2 linked regions of the Homo sapiens genome follow. Changing the gene in region 2 together with the main gene of any one other region gives a genetic interaction. Each region holds a gene or a part of one and is shown on either strand. Other genes may lie near its edges. The genes, in order: PAX6 and RAX.

What was found.
Region 1: of RAX (region 2) and PAX6, changing one enhances a phenotype caused by changing the other (phenotypic enhancement), as found in Homo sapiens cells (one study listed by BioGRID).

The regions. Positions count from the first base shown.
Region 1 is NC_000011.10:31,794,323-31,801,336, reverse strand, and holds part of PAX6 (paired box protein Pax-6), read left to right. Parts: exon of another isoform or gene 1-107; intron 108-480; coding exon 481-646; intron 647-675; exon of another isoform or gene 676-798; intron 799-6,548; coding exon 6,549-6,707; intron 6,708-7,014. UniProt on the Homo sapiens protein: Transcription factor with important functions in the development of the eye, nose, central nervous system and pancreas. Required for the differentiation of pancreatic islet alpha cells.
Region 2 is NC_000018.10:59,267,875-59,281,140, reverse strand, and holds the start of RAX (retinal homeobox protein Rx), read left to right. Parts: upstream 1-7,686; 5' UTR 7,687-7,934; coding exon 7,935-8,223; intron 8,224-8,526; coding exon 8,527-8,780; intron 8,781-11,639; coding exon 11,640-12,137; 3' UTR 12,138-13,266. UniProt on the Homo sapiens protein: Plays a critical role in eye formation by regulating the initial specification of retinal cells and/or their subsequent proliferation. Binds to the photoreceptor conserved element-I (PCE-1/Ret 1) in the photoreceptor cell-specific arrestin promoter.

The sequences.
Region 1 (7,014 bases), on a different chromosome or scaffold from region 2:
TGCAAAACAGAGGGCGGAGGCACCAGGGAAAGGCACTTGAATGAAGAAGGAAAATGAGAACCAGATTGTAACTTCGTCCTAATCCACCTGCCAGAACTTTCCTTCAGGTGTCACACATCCATTTCCATCCTAATATTAAACAATATAATGAAAGAAAGCTTTACAACAAGTCTAAATAGTTTTTATTTTCGGGCAGTCTTTTAACAAAGCAAAGCAACCGTGTGAGTTAGGTCACCAGAGACACCAAGCAATGGTGAAGGACCCCCTCCGCCCAATTCTCTATCCAACTAAATTTCCATGCCCAAAGTGATAGCTATCATTTTTTCCACGGTGTATCTGCAAATCCACCCACTGTCCCGGGGTGGCTGGGAGCTTTTTAACGGGTTGAGAGTTGCTTTTTAAGGTTGTGGGTGAGCTGAGATGGGTGACTGTGTCTTCAGGAGACACTACCATTTGGTTTGATTTTGGTTTGATTTGCAGGTGTCATCAATAAACAGAGTTCTTCGCAACCTGGCTAGCGAAAAGCAACAGATGGGCGCAGACGGCATGTATGATAAACTAAGGATGTTGAACGGGCAGACCGGAAGCTGGGGCACCCGCCCTGGTTGGTATCCGGGGACTTCGGTGCCAGGGCAACCTACGCAAGGTAAAACCCAAGCAGCCATCCACGCAGCTCTCCATATGTGCATCCCTTTGCCTGTCCCCTACTCTCCCAACCATTTCCTCTCAGGGCTTCCATGCTTGGGGAATGTCATGGGTGAGACTGCATTTGAAGGCCTGGGACACATCGACCACATTGTATGTAGGTGGTGTTTGTTGAACCATTTTGTTGGCCTGGGAATGTGAGGGTTGTGTATGTCAGGAGCGGTATGAAGGTGGCTGGTGGGTGCGTGTGTGTGTTTGTGGGCAGCACTGTGTGCATAAGAACGAGCTGCGTGGTGCACTATTCAAATTTGACATTAGAATGCAGGGAGAGCCCCCTTGTAGAAGTGTGACAAGATAACGCACTGACAGACTGCGAGGTTAACATAATTGTATCCTGTTGCTTTTTGCTGTAATTGACAAATTATGTGACTATGAGTAGGGTGCACATGAAAAGGTGAGCAGGGAGATGCAGGGCGAGTCGGGGATGGGGCATTGGAAGTGGTGGTCTCCCAACTAAAACCACCCCACTATCCTTGCCCCTCCCCCGTTCGCCCCTCTGGGTCCCACTTTCTCACTCTCTGTGGGTGGCGACTATGTGGAAGTGGTGAGGTGAAGATACTGTGAGCAGGACGGCGGGATGCCGGGAGCCGCTCTGGTCTGGGAGGAGAGATGGGACCTGAAACACCCCAGGTTCTGTGAGAAGGGCTGGAGGAAGAAGAGCGGGGGATGGGGGGGGTGGGGCGGAGGGGAGGGTCAGTTGGCTCCCCTCCGCTCCCCTCCACACCCCGAGGTAGCTTGGTCAAGAATAGGAAACAGTTTACTCCGAAGATTAATCGGTATTTGTTGTCCTCGTGACAAGGAGATAATATGCGGGATAATGGGACGTGGCGTCTCACTCCCAGGAGCACAACGGAGCCGAGGGGCTCGGGGCCAGGGGCGGCGCGCGGGACTGCGAGGAGGCTGCCGGCGCATCCGTGAGCTCTCGGACCGGCTCCGGATGCCCGGCGCCTCCATGGAGTCGGGCGAGGGAAGGGAAAATCGGTAACAGTATGCGAAATATCTGGTACAAAGGATGCTTCTGTCACTCGCAAGAATTTGTTATGGGAACAATCCTGTCGCTCTGTAATTGCTCATTAGAGAACGTTTTGTTTCTCATTAAGGCGACATGAATAAGCGTCTAGTTGAAGGAGACAGCTGTAGAAATGTTCCACAAGAGACCTCTGGACACGATTCGGCACCAATTGCCAATTAGACATGTCAGTTTTAAGAGCAGAAAACAATATAGGACGGACACTGGGAAGATAGGGAGCAAAGCGCTCGCTTCTTGTTTCCCAGCGCGGCCGCTCGGCCGGCGGAGGCCTCCTGACGCGCGGGGCCCGGGCTCCCCTGGGCGACCCCGCCCGCACGGGCCCCGAACCCGCCGCCTCCGCGAGCTCAGAGGGCCCCCAGGCCCGCTCCCGCCTCTGGTGAGACTAGCGATTGACCCCACCGAGTGTAGGCAACCCCATCCCTGCCTGACTTTTGAAACCGTAGGATTCCCACTTGTAGACACTGGACACACCCAAGTGACACCCGAACTTCGCACTCACGAGCGTCCACCCCTCCGCCCCCAGCAATCTGAGGTCCTGGTGATCCCTCCCCTGACAAGAGTCTGGCCCACTTAGTCCGAGAAGTCTTGGGGAGGGACTCAGGGCACGGTGGCCTAGGCCTGGGAGGGCTGAGCCCAGAGCCTCCACTCCGGGCTCTCCCCGGTGCGTGGGCTCCCATGAGCTTGGGGCGCAGGATACACCCCCCTTCCGCTTCTTGGAGTTGGGCAGAAGCCGAGGACAGCAGCTTCCACCAGAGGTGGCGCCCGATTCGGGCGGATTTTCGTCGCCGGCAGTCTGAGGGCGGGAAGTGAGAGTCAAATCAGCTAGGGTCCGCCTGTGATGGTTGGGGCCGGAGGTGGAGCTAGTCCAGGGGCTTTTCACTTTAACGCGCCTAGTTGCTAGAAAATTCTGGGTCAACTGGCAATCACCACCCCCCCACCCGCAAGTGAGGTTTTTGGGGGGTGATTGTCACCTCAGGCACAGGACCGTCGCCCCTAGTTGCGTGGGGAGGACACGTGGGCCAAACGAAGCACAGAGTTGCCGGCGTGGGGGTAGCGGGCACCGGTGGTGAGCTTCGCTTCACGTTCCCGGGGAATCCTCAGACTTTTTGGTGCTAAGAGGGTCCCCCTCCCTCCCTAGCCCCCTTTCCCAGCCCAGGAAGCCTTTCTTGGGTTTTAAAGAGTCCATACTCCAAAAGCATAAGGCGGGGGTTAGGTCTCAGAGGGAGACAAATATGGTTTCCATCTGATCAACGCCATGCGGCGGTGAATAAAATCGCGACGACGTGGGCTGACAACAACAAGAGACAACTCTATCCAGCCCCAATTCTCCGGCGATTTGGTGGTTTTAGGGATCACGGAGACACTTTTTCTTATCTCCTCCCCTCACCCCACCCCCACCCCCCATAATACCCAAGCCCTCTATAGGATTTAGTCAGCCTCTCTTTCAACAGATGCTACAATGTTTTGATCCGCGCTCCAGAGCTGAAAAGGTGCCGCAACCGGGTTGCTATCTTTTCTTGCTTGTTTTCCGCCTCACTGATTAAGACACTAAGAAACTAAGGAATGATTTTATTTCCCAGCAACTCTCTCTCTGTCTCTCTCTCTCTCTCTCTCTCTCACCTCCTTCCAGGAAACAAATCCTATTCCCATCGTCAGATGGTCCTGGGGCTGGGATAATGGGAGGCGCTTTCACTCGCTTTCTCACGGATTAGGCTGGAAGGTGAACGGCACCCACTGAAGGCCCCTGCTTTGCGCGGCTCCGAGGGGGCGCCTTTTGAAGAAGATATCTTAATTGTCCACCACTTAGGTTTATCGTGGGGGTGGGGGAGTCGAGATCCAACTTCTAGTTTTATTTTGTTAAAAGCTTTAAGAGTGGAAGGCAAATCCACTAAAGTGGGGGGAAATGTACCCATTTTATGTAAGAGCAGCCGCTAGGTCACCGCCTGGCTGCAAACAGTTGCCACTTCTAAAGTAATGAACTGTCTCCGTGCCGCTCTCCCCGCGGGGTAGAGAAGGGATCCTGCAGCGACAGGTTTCTTTTTGCTGTGGAATTCCAATCCCCGCTTCCCATCTTTTTTTTTTTTTTTTTTTTTTCCAGATTTAAAATTGAGCTCTACTGTCCCTGCTGACTTTTCTCTCTTAAGTGTCAGTTCTGGAGGCAGCACAGGGCCTGGCGGCGATCGCGTGCTGCCTGTGTAAACCCGTGTGTATGTTTGTGTGAGACAGAACATGGATAAGAATGTGAATCTCCATGTTTTAAAATTAAGAAAATGTCAAAGAGGCAAATGAGAGCAGAGCATGCTATCGGCGGGGTTCTTCGGAGGCAGATTCGGGCAACTTTGTTTAATTGGCGAGATCGAATGTGCCAGAAAAGGGACCGAGATGGGGCCCCTAGGAAGGCATGGGCATGAGTGGCCATGGGGAGATGGGCATTGTGTTCTCCTCAGTGTCCCCCACCCCATACCAGATGTGCACAGATTTTTGTCTGTTTTCCAAAAGCAATAACCCTCCGGCCTTTCTAGTTGGCCAAAAGGAGCTATTTCCAGTCTTCCTTCTTCACCAAACCCGAAAATAAAGCGAGGGGTGGGGGTGGTCGCTTCATTTCTTCCCTTGAAAAACGCTTTGAAAAGTCCCCGGAAACTTGGGGCAGTAAATTAGCACAGACGCTTGTGCCCGCACACGTGAGCGGAGCGCGTCTCCCTCAGCTAAGTAGCCCTCCTCGACCCCCACCTTTCTGATGGAGTGCAAAGACCCAGAGTCCAGATGGGGCTCAGTTACTAATATTCTCTGGCCCTCATCCTCCTTTTCCTCTCTCTCCCACTCTTGTTCGGCCCTCGTGTCTCTTTTTCCTCTCAGCATTCTTTTCTGTCCTTTTTTAAAAATACCTTTCTAGCCTCTATGTTTTTTGAGCCTTCTTTTCCCCTCCATCGCCCTCTTTTTCCCTCCATCGCCCTCTGTCTTTCCCCTAACCCAGGCCCCCCAATCCTTCCCCCTTGCTTCCACCCCCACCGCTGGTTTCCATCCTGCCTCCCCTCCATCTCCTCTATGTAGGAACCCAGCCCTGGTCCCCGTCCACTCTCCCTGCCTCCCCCCATGCTGGGCCCTGGCCCCCCCATCCACCCTCCATCCCCCCAGCCAAGCGCCCTAAATAGCACGGAGGCGCCCGCTCTTCGGACAGTGATTAATGATAGCAGAGCAGAGGGGTTAACACACTTCACTGAAAAGTCTGTTGACTGGGCTTCTTGTAACACAATGTGGCCCGCTGCACGCCTCAAGAGAATCCTTTTGTTGTCCGCGCTCATTGTAGCCTCAAAATTCTGCCCACGAAAGTTTGCCAACGCTCCTGCCCCAGGAGTTTAATAGTTTCCCTTACTCGCGGGGCATTGTGCAGCGCTGAAAAGCAGCCCCTCGCTATTCAAGTGTTGGTGGTCATCTCAATAGATCTCCAAGGGCCCATATGGTGGCCAGTGCCGATGAATCCGCCTGTTTAAATGGGGGAGAAAGTTGGGGTTTTAAAACATTTCAAAGTTCCTGAAAAGATCCCACTAGATCCTGTCACAATTCCCTGAACTCTTTGAAGGCGCAGCCTATTGTCTCCTGGTTATAAATAATATTCCTGGCCAAGTCGATTCCCACCAAGGCGCTCCTAGGGGCCCCTCCACCCCGCCTCTGGCCAAGTTTTGAGGATAGGGAGGTGGGTAGCCCATGCTGGTATCCCTTGGGGGTCATTTCAGGACCCCAGACCCAGGACCCAGCCTGTAGTGGCCCTGGAGGCCCAGTCAGAGTTTAGGCAATCCTGCTTCCCTTCACTGTGGCCTTACAGGCAAGGTGCAAGCCGGGAGCCAGCTAGCCCAAGTGCACATCTTGCCCTCCAGGCAGCAAGGGAAAACCATAAAACTTTCCCCCTGTATAATGATAGAAGTTACATTCAAAGTGGTGGAAATGCCCTAATTAAAAATGTACCACTTAAATGATATGCCAAAGATTCAGCTGCAGCATAGAATATTTAGCTAGTTAGTGAACTCTCTACTATTTCTTTTTTAAAATTACACGTTAAAAATTTAAAAGAAATCTTACTTTTCTCTGGTGCAACACATTACAAAGAATGGACAGTCCTTTTATCTAAATATAAAATTCCATTTTCAGCAATTATAGCCTGTTCTTGGTGATGATATAATTACAGCTGTGCTCGTAATAGGTGTCAAGGCGAAGCGCACTCATACAATAGTTGAATAAAACTGCAGAACAATGCGAGCACTTCTAAATTCACAACCTTTAAATGAAATTGACTGTGCAGAATTCAAATAAAAACTAGATAAATATTTTTTAAAAAAGATTACAAGCTTGGTTTGGTTTCTTAATAGCATTTTCTACAAACCTATCAACATCTAATTGATTAGATAGGAATTACTGATTATAGATCAACTGAAATCTTGAACATCACTCTTCTATTTTCCCAACACAGCCATAGGTAAAGAGATTCTGTAGGGAGTGGAGTGAGGCATTTGGGGAGTTGGGGTTACTTATAAAAGATCATTTTAATTGGAAACTTCAGTGCTTATTTTTTCATTCAAGAAATGCCACTTAGTGTGTGTATTATAAAGTCTCATCTTGATAAAAACAAAGAAAATGGTGGTCAGGTAACTAACATCGCAAATGTATTTTTTTAAAAGAAGGCTGACAGTTACCTTGGGAATGTTTTGGTGAGGCTGTCGGGATATAATGCTCTTGGAGTTTAAGACTACACCAGGCCCCTTTTGGAGGCTCCAAGTTAATCCAAATTTCTCTTACCATCCTATTCTTTTTGTTCCAGATGGCTGCCAGCAACAGGAAGGAGGGGGAGAGAATACCAACTCCATCAGTTCCAACGGAGAAGATTCAGATGAGGCTCAAATGCGACTTCAGCTGAAGCGGAAGCTGCAAAGAAATAGAACATCCTTTACCCAAGAGCAAATTGAGGCCCTGGAGAAAGGTGATAGAGTTTTTCAAAGTAGAGAAGCAGTAAATCAAAGTAAATGCCACATCTTCAGTACAAAGAGCTAAATTTAGCCAGGGCCCTTTGCATAGAAGAATGAAAAGATTTCCTTTTTTCTGTCTTTTTATTTCTCTGGGCATCTTTTCAGTGTGTGTGTGTGTGTGTGTGTGTGTGTGTGTGTGTGTGTGTGTGTGTGTGTGTGTGTGGTGTGTGTGTGTGTGTTTCTTCTTTTCATCTACCAGTAATTCAAAGACTAAATGTCTGACTTATAAGGAAAAATGATGATTTGGCTATTTCAGGCCAC
Region 2 (13,266 bases):
ATTTTAGTTCAGGAAGATTAAAACGTTCTGGAGATGGATGGAGGTGATGATTGCACAACAATATGAAGGTATTTAATGCCACAGAACCATATACTCAAAAATGATTGAAATGGCACATTTTTAGTTGTGTGTATTTAACCACACATTTTTTAAAAAGGAAGTAGGAGACACAGTCCTGGCCTTTGAATTGTTTCTGCTTGTGAGTAGCTCGTGCTTTGTCAGGAGTTAGCTGCATTCTGGGTTTTTTTTTTTTTCACTCTCCAAATTAAAACATAAAATGGAATATGTTAAACTCCTATTTTAAGAAGCAGGCAGCTTCCATTTGGGGGAATGAGAATGTGTATGTTGACTTTGAATTAGAAGAGAAGGAGAGTAACCCAACACATATTTATAGATCTGAACCAGAGTTGTGCTATAATTATTTATCTGAATACAAAGGAGGCTGGGTGTGGTGGCTCACACCTGTAATCCTAGCACTTTGGGAGGCCGAGGCAGGCAGATCACCTGAGGTCAGGAGTTGGAAACCAGCCTGGCCAAAAAGGTGAAACACCGTCTCTGCCAAAAATACAAAAAAATTAGCCAGACGTGGTGGCACATGTCTGTAGTCCCAGCTAATCGGGAGGCTGAGGCAGGAGGACCACTTGAGCCCTATAGAGATGAATGGTGGTTTGCACCAGATTGGAGATGGAGAAAAGCCATCAGAATCTGTTTATATGTTGAAGCTACAGCCAACAGGATTGCCTGACAAATTGGGTGATAGAAAGAGAAATGGCTTAGAATTTGAGACACGTGAGTGAAACAGCCATTTACAGATATGAGGAAGATGGTGGTAGAACAGGTGCAGGAGGGAAGTCCTATTCAGAAACTCTGTTTCTAACATGTACTCAATACGCAAGCAAATGGAGATGCCTAACAGGCAGTCAATAAACTACAGGAGTCAGAAAGAGTTCCAGAGTAGAGTCAAGGAGAGCATCAAGAAAGTGAGTCTAAATAGGGAGCAGGACCTAGGGCTGGGCTGGGCATTCCAGCTTTCAGAGGTCAAGGACAAGAGGAGGAATCCAGGGAGGATACTGCCGAGGAGCAACCAGTGAGCTAGAAAGAAAACCAGAGGTTGTAGAGAACTGGAAGCCAAATGATTTTCAGTAGAACACTGCCTTGCTGTGAAAAAGACTAGAGCCAGCCAAACCCCTGGTGGGGGTTGGGTCAAGGCTGCTGCAAAATGGGCATCCTTGGATTTGCCTTCTTAGCACTCTAAGAGGATTGATAGGCTTCAAGACCATCATCCCCTCAAGATAAATGTCTTTAGTGCTTCCCCCTAGACACTCTGAATTCAATTAGTTTAATTAGAAAACAAGTAAAGAGGAATTATCTTAATATAGCTTTGCTCCTAACAACTCAAAAAAGTCCATTTATTTGGCAGAAATCCAAGTTCCCTCTTTTGTTTATATATTCTGAGATAATGATGTAAATTTTCATTTCTGAGTAAAAAGGTAGACGTCTCTCACCCCGTCAATCATGGTTTTGTTTTAGTTTTAATAATAAATAATAACAATAATAAACACTTCCTGATTTCCTCATTTTTAATGAGGTAGGAGCAGTAATATGCTAGTAATGTTTAAATATCATTTAGTTTTTAAGTTGAGAGGGGGACTGTCTGATTTTTAGTGTTTGTCAATTGCTGTGGTGAAATTACTACCACTGTGGCTGATTTCAAGCTACTAAGATGAATCACTGAACTCAGAACTGGGAAGATGCTAACCATAAGTTCTTACAAGCCAGTAGGGGCTGATTCCAGCACACCAATGCGTAGCAATATTAGCTGTTTGCCAAAAATCCCTGCAAATCTATTGCCAAGGGAATTTTTCCTCTTACCGAGAGGCTACTTGAACTTGCATCAGTTGTAAAAGCAAGCTCAGAACCAAGATAATTGGGTTGGTAAGTGACGGGGGAGTTGTGTGAAGAGTAACTTCATTGTGTTTGTACAACAAATATATTCCTCCACAATTCATGCACTGACTTTCTCTAACTATAAGCGTGGGGCATCTGAGTGTAACAGCCTGAGAGCTCAGCATGGCGGTGCTAATGCCAGAGTGCCCAGTGGACACCCTGGGAGTCTGGGACCCGGCCTCCAGTCCAAGCCCTAGTACAAACATTCTGTCTCACCTTGGGCTAACTGCTTAATTTCTCTGGGCCCACACATTTTTCACATCTAAAATGTTAAAATGGGGGCTAGAAATAAGAGAACAGAACAGATAATCATCAAAGTTCGTTTTCTAAATCTTCAATATACGATCCCCTGAAATAACAGGACACTAAGTGGGAGGGCAGTTTTAAGTGATGCTGTTTCCAAAAATATCATAATTGGGAAACAATGGAAATTCCCAAGGAGGAGACTTCTTGCTAATTGCTGGATGGTCTGCAGAGAGCTGTGGTCCCTATTTTTAAGTGAAAGGAAGGCTTTCAAACAGGGTATTACTGCTGGGAAACAACAGCTCTCAACTGCCCTTCATTTCGTCTTGTGACGAGATGAAATGCTTGCTTCCATATGCCCATCTGCGAGGGCTCTCAATTAAACCCATAATGTCTACATGAGGCCCATCTCTTTGTTGGTTTATGGTCTTTCAGCCACGATTATCTGATGGGGTTATTATTCACTACACTATCCTTATATCAACATTTGCTTCAATCTAGTCTGAAAATACTAGAGAACATCCAGATTGTCATAGTAAGAGGTAAACTACTATACTGGAAATGTCTTTATCATATGTGTCAAGGTCATATATTTATGAAAGTGGCCAAGGATATTCATTGTTAGTTGCCCGCATGTAAAAATGGGGTTCTGGTAGGCACCTCTAAGAACATTTTTCTGATATACCTTGTGGGTTGCTTCAAGTAGCTAATGTTTCATAAATGAGGGAGATCTGGTAGTGAGAGATGAACAAGCATAGTGTATTTTATCTCTGGATGCAATGTCAGTATTTAAAAGAGCTTAGCTAGTGATATTTTTGCAACCATTGCCAGCAACTCGCCCATGATATGCAATATATAATACAATATAGGGGAGAATTCACAGCATCAAAGGCCAATGCTGAAAAATATCTTTTAGATGCTTAAATATATATTGTTCACAAACCACTGAGAGTGATTTGAAACTCAGAACAGAGAAAACTCCCTAAGCTTCATGAGATAGCCTTGGAAAGTTGAATGGCATACTTATTATTATTTTTTTTTAGCAAACCTGTAACCATCTTAAATGACTTAATAAATTATAGGCCATCCACCATACCTTTCTCATCCCCACATCACTCTGAACTATATTATTCTTGTTACCTTTGACTCCCAAATTTTCTTGCTTTAATTTATCTGCTGGTTCTCTTATGGCCACTGGAGAATTAATGGTGCATGTTAATACACATACCGTGTTGGGGGTAGCACACATGGTGGGCAGAAGGAAGCATTCCTGAGTAAAACACCTAGGTTCAGATCCTGGCTCTACTTGAAACCAGCTGTGTGACCTTGGACATGCTACAGAACCTCTCTGTATTTCAGTTTCCTCATCTGTAAAGTAGGGATAATAATAGTGTCTACTGGCCAGGTGCGGTGGCTCAAGCCTGTAATCCCAGCATTTTTGGAGGTTAAGGCAGGAACATTGCTTGAGCCCAGGAGTTAAAGACCAGCCTGGGCAACATGGCGAAAACCCATCTCTACAAAAAAATACAAAAATTAGCTGGATGTGATGGCCTGCACCTGTAGTCCCAGCTTTGCAGGAAGCTGAGGTGGGAGGATACTTGAGCCCAAGAGGTTGAGGCTGCAGTGAGCTGTGATCATGTTACTGCACTCCAGCCTGGGCAACAGAGCCAGACTCTGTCTCTAATAATAATAATAATAGCAGCATCTACATCATAGGATTATCGTAAGAACTAAATTGGGCAATTCATGTAAAATAATACTCAAAAGCTTATGGCATATACCCACTGACATGTACTTAGCATTCAATAAATAGTAGCTCTTGTATGTATTCTTAACTCTTGACAACTGAATTTGTTGAACTTCAGTGTGTGTGTATGGTGTGTGTGCGTGTTTAGTGATTATATGAGTTGTGTTTTGCTCTGGCTAAAACTAAAAGTAAGTTGCCTTTCTTGCACGTGTATCAGCTAGTGGGAGGAGGAGGTCCTCGAATATGGCGTGACACAGGGGGAGTTATTCCAGGATTAAAATACATCTGCTATGGGGAAAATCTACATGCAGACAATCAAGTTTATTTGATACACTTTACGAATTGATATATCATAGGCCTTTCCACAGACATTTTCACCCTAATGTAAAACATCGCTGAGAGGTGAAATGACTAGAGACTGTGGCTGAATGTCCTTAATTCACCGCTCTCCCTCTCCTTCTCCGTCCAGTGCACAGGGATATGCATGTCTCCCCCGTGTTGTAGGTGAGACTGTTCATCCAGAATACTTCCAGAAATTGGACCTTCTCCATACAGCCACGATCAAGGAGTCGCTTTATACTACAACTTCCTCACGTTTGGAAATGTGTGTCTCCCAACCATCCGAAGTTTAATGGGGCTTTAGCTGTGTCTAAGGTTGGCCGCAGGTGGGGGATGGAAGGAGGGGTTTTCTTTGATCCATCTAATGAATTAATGAATTAATCAGAGGTGGGGTTCAGAAGCCAGGCTCCTTACTGTTGCTGAAGCAGGGCTGATTATGAGCTAGCCTAACTGCTGGAAAAATGCAGCTTCATGCTAGAAGAATTAGGGACATGGCCCAGTCCATTCATCTTCCCTAATCGAGTTCTTGGGAAATACACACGTAGATTAGCCCCTAACAATGACCCCCGGCTGATTGCTTGGAGTACCCTCCACCGTGCCCACAATGGTACTGACTAGCTCTTTATGTCCTGCACAAAGGAAGCCCCAACTCCCCCTTGTCCTCCTCTGCCCTGTCTCCCCCACCCCCATCACCACCACCCCTGCCCTCGCCAGTGGCTGTTGAAGTCTTTTCTGCTTTTTTCCCCAGACTCTGAAACAAACAGTAAATAAAAGCTAACCTCACCTGGACTTATTAGGAGGAGCTGGGCAGTTCCAGAGGAATTAACTTTGGAAAACAAGGCCATAAACCCCTTAGCAGCGTGTGGGCAGGAGCTTAAGGAAACGCTGCCAATCTTTGTTTAGCGGTGATTATCGAGATCAATTTAATATTGGGGAAGTTTGCATAAAAAGCATTCTCGGTCAGAGGGGGAACAACAAATACCAATTAATTATCCCCACAGCTGCCCTCTGATCACCACCACCTCAGCACGTCAGCCACCTGGTCTATGTCACTGGCAGTCAGACCTTTTCGGGTGCCACCAGGCCATTTGTGGGCCCTGGAAAGGTGGAGGAGGGGCGGAGGAGGAGGCAAAACCTGGTCTGTCAGGGGACTTTCCAGAGGGTTTGTTAATTTGCCCTGGATGCCGGTACCCAAAGCCCACTCTCTATAGGCTCTGACTTTATTTCTTCTGGGAGCTAAACTGCTTCTACCTCCGCCTCTTAGATGCAGAATCCAGTCTCAGGGAAGGATTAAAGACAGACTGCAGGCTAAGATGGGCTTTGATTCTTTTCAAAAAGATCACACACTACAATAATAATTACAAATGAGCTGCAGGCAGAAAACACTGGACAAGGAGTCAGTGGCCTGAGTTCTAGTCCTGACCCTTCCACTTAATAGCTGTATCACTTTGAGCCTCAGTTTCCTCTTCTGTAAAATGGGGACCAATATGTCTGTCCTGCTCACCTCACAAGGTTGTGAAGATCAGATGACATGAAGAATGTGAGAAGATTCTGAAACCTACAAAGTGACATGTCGAGAGAATTGCTTGAGCCCAGGAGTTCCAGGCTGCAGTGAGCCACCATCATGCCACTGCACTCCAGCCTGGGCAACAGAGAGGGACCCTGTCTCTAAAATAAACAGACAAATAAATAATAAGTAAATAAAGTAATATGTGAACACTGTAAAGTGCTATTAACTTTCATTAATTTTAGCTTTTTTCTTAAAAGATAATTTCTGACTTGAATTAGTTCAATTTCTATCTCCTGCAGTCACATGCTTGCCCTTATTTTAGTTTGCCATTATATAGTTTTATTAAAAGTAGATATGCCCATCATGGGGAATTAACCATTGAATGATCCTTAAGAAATTGACTTGTCCTCCGCAAACATCCTTCTAACACCAATTTAAAGGTTGGGGATCTGAGGATGTGTGTTTTCCCTCTTCCTTTGTCTTGTCTTCCAGACTGGACGTTAAACTCCACCAGGCCAACGGCCCTGGCCTTTCCCAATTTGTTTGATGCCCACGACGTGGCCCTCGACGGTTGCCTTGCCCTCTAAAGGGACGCAGCAAACGCTTGTCTGAACGCAAGCGGGATAAAGAAGACACCCCTGCTGTGGAGATCAGAGCGCCTACTGAAAAGGAGATTTTAGGGATATTGTCCTCTAGGTCCTTGAGCTTTTATAGGAAAGCATTTTAATTCACGGTTCAGGCCACCAGTTCAGGGAAGGCCAAGCGCTCGCCTCGGGTCTCGCCTCAGATTTGAGGGGTGAGACGTTCACAGCGCCATTGTCCATCCGCGCTGCTGGAGGTGAAACACACTCACCCTATCCAATCATCTTTCCAAGTGGCCGATCAGTCACTGTGGGCCACGGAAGCCTCGAGGGGGTCCAAAGGAGAAAGAACTGCAAGCCAATTACTCCTGAACCCTCGGGGAGGCGAGAGGCCTCTTCCCCGGGAGAAGGTCCTTCCCCAGCCAGCTCTGGGCCATCTCCTTGGCCCGGAGTGTTGGAGGGAGGCGGGAGTGCGACACCGCTGCTCATCAGTAAAGGAGCCCGCCCTCCCCGCAGGACAAGGGGCGGGAGCGAGGAACTCCAGGTGGGTCTCCTGCGGGACCTGAGCCCGGCAGCACATCCGACTCGGGGCTCCCAGTCTCCTGCTGGGCGATCGGGCGCTAGAGGTCACCGGACTTGCGGACATAAATGGCCCTGGGGTGGGCGCTGCGGGGAAGGAGGGAGGCTGCCGGCGCTCAAGTCCGAGGGGACTGGGAGGAGTTACAACAGATATAGACGGACAAACTAAACGCGAGGTCCGGGACTTCGTACAACCCAGCCAAGAAAGGAGTGGGTCCCGAAAAGGGAGCCAGCGAGGGGAAATTCAAACTGCGACGAGTGCGGGGCTGGGAAGCCTTCGGCTGGGTCTCGGCGCTTCCAGGGGGCACAGGCCAGGGTGGCGGCCCCGCGGAGGTGAGCCAGAGGGGGCTAGAGGGGCGAGTCTGAAGCTGGGGAGGGGTGCGTCCAAGGAGGGAGGTGACCCCCAGGGGGTAGTCTGAAGTGAGAGGGTAAGCCCGAAGTAGAGGGAGACAAACGCAAGGGGAGAGATGAGCCCAAGGGCGTCGGCCCCACTGAGGCAGGACTAGGGGTGCGCCGCGACCAGGTTCCCGAGCCCATCAGGCATCCCGCCGCGGATCCCCGGAGTGTGTTTGTAAAGCTTAAAACGGATCAAGAGGTGGAAGGGGAATATTCCTAGTGCCGGCCCAGGGGTGGCCACTAGAGGACCCTGTGGCTGGGCCGGGTGAGGACACGCCCCTCTGTGGAGGGAGGGGCCGAGAGAAGGGGCTGGGTCCAGGGCGAGAGGGGAGGAGCCGAGGGCCAGTTGGCTCCCCGCCTTTAGCGCCGAGAGCCCCAGCTACCCCGAGCCCGAACTTCCGACTTCTGGGACTAAGGCGGCAGCGGGCTGAGCGCTCGGCCACCCCCAGCGTGCGCAGCCCGGGCGGGCTTCGCCCGCGGAGCTTGACCTAGGGTCGGGACCCGTCGGGTTGCACCGCCGCACTCGGGAAGACCCGGCTTCGAGCCTCTCCTCTCCGTCTCCAAAGCGCCCTCCCGCCTCCCGGCGCTCCCCATGCACCTGCCGGGCTGCGCGCCAGCCATGGCCGACGGGAGCTTCTCGCTTGCCGGCCACCTGCTCCGCAGCCCGGGCGGGAGCACCTCGCGACTTCACAGCATCGAGGCCATCCTGGGGTTTACCAAGGACGACGGGATCCTCGGCACCTTCCCGGCGGAGCGGGGCGCCCGGGGCGCGAAGGAGCGGGATAGGAGGCTGGGCGCGCGGCCCGCCTGCCCCAAGGCGCCCGAGGAAGGCTCCGAGCCCTCCCCGCCGCCAGCCCCGGCGCCCGCCCCCGAGTACGAAGGTGAGTGCGCACCCCTGGCTGTGCGAGGCCGTTCGGGCGCCCGAGCTTAGGAGTTGGCCAGACGAGAGCGCCCCTTCCTTAACTTTTATTAAGGCAACTGGGCGCGGGGTTGGGGACCGTCTATGGCGGGAGCTTCCAATTTGCATTCAGAGAAAGCTTAGGACCCATCGCCGCCCTCACCACGGACCTCCCCGGGCCATCTCGGAGCCCGCAGGCGGGCTGGCCAGTGCCCACAGCGAGGCGGGGTCGGCCCAAGGGTGTTTTGGGGAGTGCATCTGACCCTCCCGGGCCTCGTCGCCCCAGCCCCTCGACCCTACTGCCCCAAGGAGCCCGGGGAGGCACGGCCGAGCCCAGGGCTGCCCGTCGGGCCAGCCACCGGCGAAGCGAAACTGTCAGAGGAGGAACAGCCCAAGAAAAAGCATCGGCGGAACCGCACGACTTTCACCACGTACCAGCTGCATGAGCTGGAGCGCGCGTTCGAGAAGTCCCACTACCCGGACGTGTACAGCCGCGAGGAGCTGGCCGGCAAGGTCAACCTACCAGAGGTCCGGGTCCAGGTAAAGCGCCCAGGTTGAGGAACTGGGATCTGGGAGGGCCCGAGGCCCAAATTGCAGCCAATGCTTCTCGGAATTCACGGGTGTCCATGCATTTATTACTGTCCTTCCTCGACTTGGCATGCCCAGAGTCTCAAGGGAGAGGCACAGATCTTCGATGTTCCCTGTGCATCGCCCTTCAAGCAGTCTGTTCCAGTTTGTAGTACGAGCTCCCCTTTGGGGGTTTCCCTCTTCTAAACTCAAAATAGAAGATGGGAATGACTTGCAAGATGAAGAGGCCGACAGCTCATTAGACATAGCCAGGAAGGGGTTGGGGGTTGCTGAGTGGAAATGGAATGCAGGTAGTGATCGAGGGTGACAGGATTGGGGCCCCAAATGCCACCCTCGTCACTAGCTGCGAATACCGAGTTGGAAACGAAAACCCTGTTTCCTTGCGAAGGGCCTGGCACCTCGCAGTTGAAACTTCGGGTGGATTTATTTAAGAAACTGACTTTTCCTTTTCTGGTGCACATCCAACCAAACTTCTCGCTGCAAAGGCCTTTTCTTTTTATTGTAAAGGGGTTTTCGCTTTAATTAAAGCTGAATTATCTTTAATCCCTGATCATTAAAATATTTGAAAGCCTTAAATATTTGCTAGTCATCTGTGAAAAATCTGGGAGGATTTCCAAATTGGGAGAGTTTACAGAGGGCTGAAAGAGAGACATTGGGAACAAATTTCACTGCATCTGAAAGGCAGTGGAACTAAGATGGGATTTTTGTGTGTGTCTAATAAATTAGATTTCCAGGAAATGAGAACACTCAAGTGTTCGGAGCTTTTATCCATGTCTTAAAAGTAAAAGAGGACAAGCTGCTGCTTTTTCTTTTCTGCTTAGTTTAAGAGTTGAAAGTAATGAGTAAAAGTCATGGCTTAAAAAATATAATTCCCTAATGTGACTTGGGATTAACCAGCAAGGACAGTTCAATGTCTCCTAATTTGGGGCAGTAAAGCTGCAGTGATTTCACTGAAGGGGTGGAAATTTTATCACCTGCTTTCAAAAAAAGAAGGATGGGAGAGGGAATGAATACAAGAGAAAGAGTAGAGGCAAAGCCTTCCAGTACCCTACAGAATCCAAGCAAAGCAGACTCAGCTCCCTGGGCACTTGAGCCCACCTGCATCCTCCCTCATTACTTGTTCAGGAGTTTTGGCTTCTCCTCTAAGTTGTGAGATTCTTGAGAACAGTGTCTGTGACTTCTTTGTGACCACAGGGCCAGCACAGCACCCAGCATATGGCCATTCTTAACACATGACTATGATGTAATCAGATGGTAGAGATACTAGGCAGGATCTCCCACACCGAGGGCAGCAGTAGAGCATTGCAATAACCGACCTCAATCCTTCAGTCTATAACCTGGGACACTAGATCTGAAGGCTACAGCTGATGTGGTAGGGAATTGAGTGGGACAGACAGGGAAGCCGAGAAGGTGGTGGGACAGGAGCCCTCACCCAAATCAGTGTTTCTTTTCTCTACTGTTGGCAAGTATCTAATATTTAAGGGAGACTTGAGGCCTTAGATATGCAGATGAATCTTTTCTAGGATGGTACAGGGTACTTACACTTTTGTTGTTTCTCTTTTTCTCCCTAATTGCAGCCTCTCACACACTTGCCCTGCGGTGCTTGGGTGCTGGATTGCTGTTCTTTCAGCTCTCCTCGGGGGTCCCCTGCCCTTATTGACTGAAAACTACTTTCTCCCTTCTGAGGTTGCAACAATCTCCCCATTTCCCTTCATAAATATAGCACTAAAGCCACCAGTTTGGCTGAAATTCTTTTGTGTTCTCTACTAAACGGATTCTCTGTCTTGCCTGTGAAGGTGGAACTGGTAGTAAAAATGTAATTACACATATTCCAGCACTTTTATCAAATCAGTAATGAAGTTTCATTGGAAGAACCCGACGTTACTCTTGGCAAGGACTTCGTACAGATAAAGAAGAAGAAGCAAAAAACCTTGTCATTGAGCTAAGGTCTTAGGGTAATGTCAAAATTAACTTTGTAATGTAAAAGTAGATATAATAGACTGGAATGATTGTACTCCTTGAAAGTAATAACAAACAGCAGAAATAGTAAGCAGACATTAATTAAATAAAAATAAAAATATTAAAGCAGCAATTCAAATATGGTTGGGGCAAAATAAACCCCACTTGCTCCTATCTAGTTATCATAACCAGTAATCCGTGAAAAGAGCTGAATTTTAACGCCCATTCTTGCCAATTACTCTACTTAACAATATTTATTTATACCTGTATTTAGAGACAAAGGGTAGGTAAAGCAGAGAAAGTCTGAGACCAAAATACAGCAACTTAGATCTGTACCATACAGAGAACAAGCAAGTCTAAACTGTTAGGAGGGGCTGCCAACCAGAAGGTCACAGAAAATTGGTGAGATCTCGTTTCAAAGTTCTACGATTCGATTGCGGAGTTAAATTCACTTTTTTTTTCTGAGCTTCTGCTACGCACTAGGAGTTGGAAACAGATACAACCACAGCTATGGATAAACAGAGAAAAGGGTGGGACGCCACGGAGGACTAGGATGGGACAAAGAGACTCAGAAGAGGCGATAATGGAGAGAAGAGGCCAAAAAAAAAAAAAAAAGAGAGAGAGAGAGAGAGAGAAAGGGGATGGAAAAGAAAAGAGAACGCGGGGTGGGAGGAGTAGGAGTGGGTGGAAGGAAGGAAGATCCGGGCCTCTCTCGGCACATGCATAACAGTTGCGCCCCTAGTTTTATTTGAGGGGGACGGAGTGGAGCCCGCCGAGCTGAACCGGCTCAGGGTTGGGGACGCGGCCGCAGCCTCCGCTGCTGCCCGACGGCCCCTGTGCTCTCTCCTGCAGGTGTGGTTCCAGAACCGACGGGCTAAGTGGCGGCGGCAGGAGAAGCTGGAAGTGTCCTCCATGAAGCTGCAGGACTCGCCCCTCCTCTCCTTCAGCCGCTCCCCGCCCTCCGCGACGCTGTCGCCCCTCGGGGCGGGCCCGGGCAGCGGTGGCGGGCCGGCTGGGGGCGCGCTGCCGCTGGAGTCCTGGCTCGGGCCGCCGCTGCCGGGCGGGGGCGCCACGGCGCTGCAGAGCCTGCCGGGCTTCGGGCCGCCGGCGCAGAGCCTGCCTGCCAGCTACACGCCACCGCCGCCGCCTCCGCCCTTCCTGAACTCCCCGCCGTTGGGCCCCGGCCTGCAACCTCTCGCGCCGCCGCCGCCCTCCTACCCGTGCGGGCCCGGCTTCGGGGACAAGTTCCCGCTGGACGAGGCGGACCCGCGCAACAGCAGCATCGCGGCGCTGCGTCTGAAAGCCAAGGAGCACATCCAGGCCATCGGGAAGCCGTGGCAGGCCCTCTAGGGGCACTGGGGAACGTCTTGGGATCCGACCCCGGGCCGACCGCACCGTACCCGCATCCTCTCTCCCAGGGACAACCCCCCTCCCCAGCTCGGCCCCTCTTTCCCTGTCGCCTGCAGCCACCCGCCAAGCATAGTTCAGGGCCACGCGCCTGCTCCCGATGCACGGGGAGAAGGGCGACTTTCAGGCCTGAGGAGAGGCCCTCTGGCCGCCTCAACGCACTTCGCGGACCTCAGCCCTGCAGCTGGAGGGCAACAGGCTGCCGGGCCCCGCTGGCCACGCCGCTCCCATCACCGCAGGCGCTGGAGCCTCCAGGCCCAAACAGGCTGAAGCTCCTAAACTTGGCCATTCCCAGGAGGCTTGGAGACCCCCAGATAACCATAACAGGGAAGCAGGGGAGGCGGAAAAATAGAGTTTGAGAAACTTTTGTATAAGTAGTTTCAAACTATTTGAGAGGAGAATTAAAGACATGCTTGTTTTGTTTCGACTCTGTTTAAGCACGCTCAGGACTTGGGGAGAGGAGTGAATATTGGGGTACGGGAGGAGGGTGCGTTGACGGACAGGGTGGGTCAGGGAAAGAGGAGGACTGAGAAGAAGCTCAGGGTTTCCTTGTGAAAATTCTAGGGACACTTCGCTGCAGCAGAGAATCGTCCCCATTCCGAACGCTTCGGCGGCCTAGACCAGAGGCGCCCTTCCCTGGAGCCGGCGTGCGCGCTTGGGGTCCGGAGTGGATGGGGCTAAGGCTCAGATGCTAGCGCGCTCCCAGTTCCCCCGCTAGCCCCATAGTCCAGCGGCAGCTGATATTTTCAAGTTTGACTTCAATAGAAAGCGTCAAGACCACCTTCCCTAGGGCGAGAGCGAAGTGTCCCCCGGCCCCTGGCGTCCCCGCTCTCCTAAGGACTCCTCTCAGTTCACCAAGCAGATCTCCGGTTCGGTGCCAGTCCCTAACACCCAAGGTTGATCACCAGCGGTACAAGAACTGAGGCAAAGAGATGCTTTTCCTTTTCGGAGCCGCGAGACTCTCTAACCTCCCCAACTCGCTCCACACTCGCCAACCCAGAGTTCGGTAAAAGGCGCGTCTGGTGAGGTGCCGCGCTCGGAGAGTGTCCTGGAGCGCCCTACGCCACCGCCC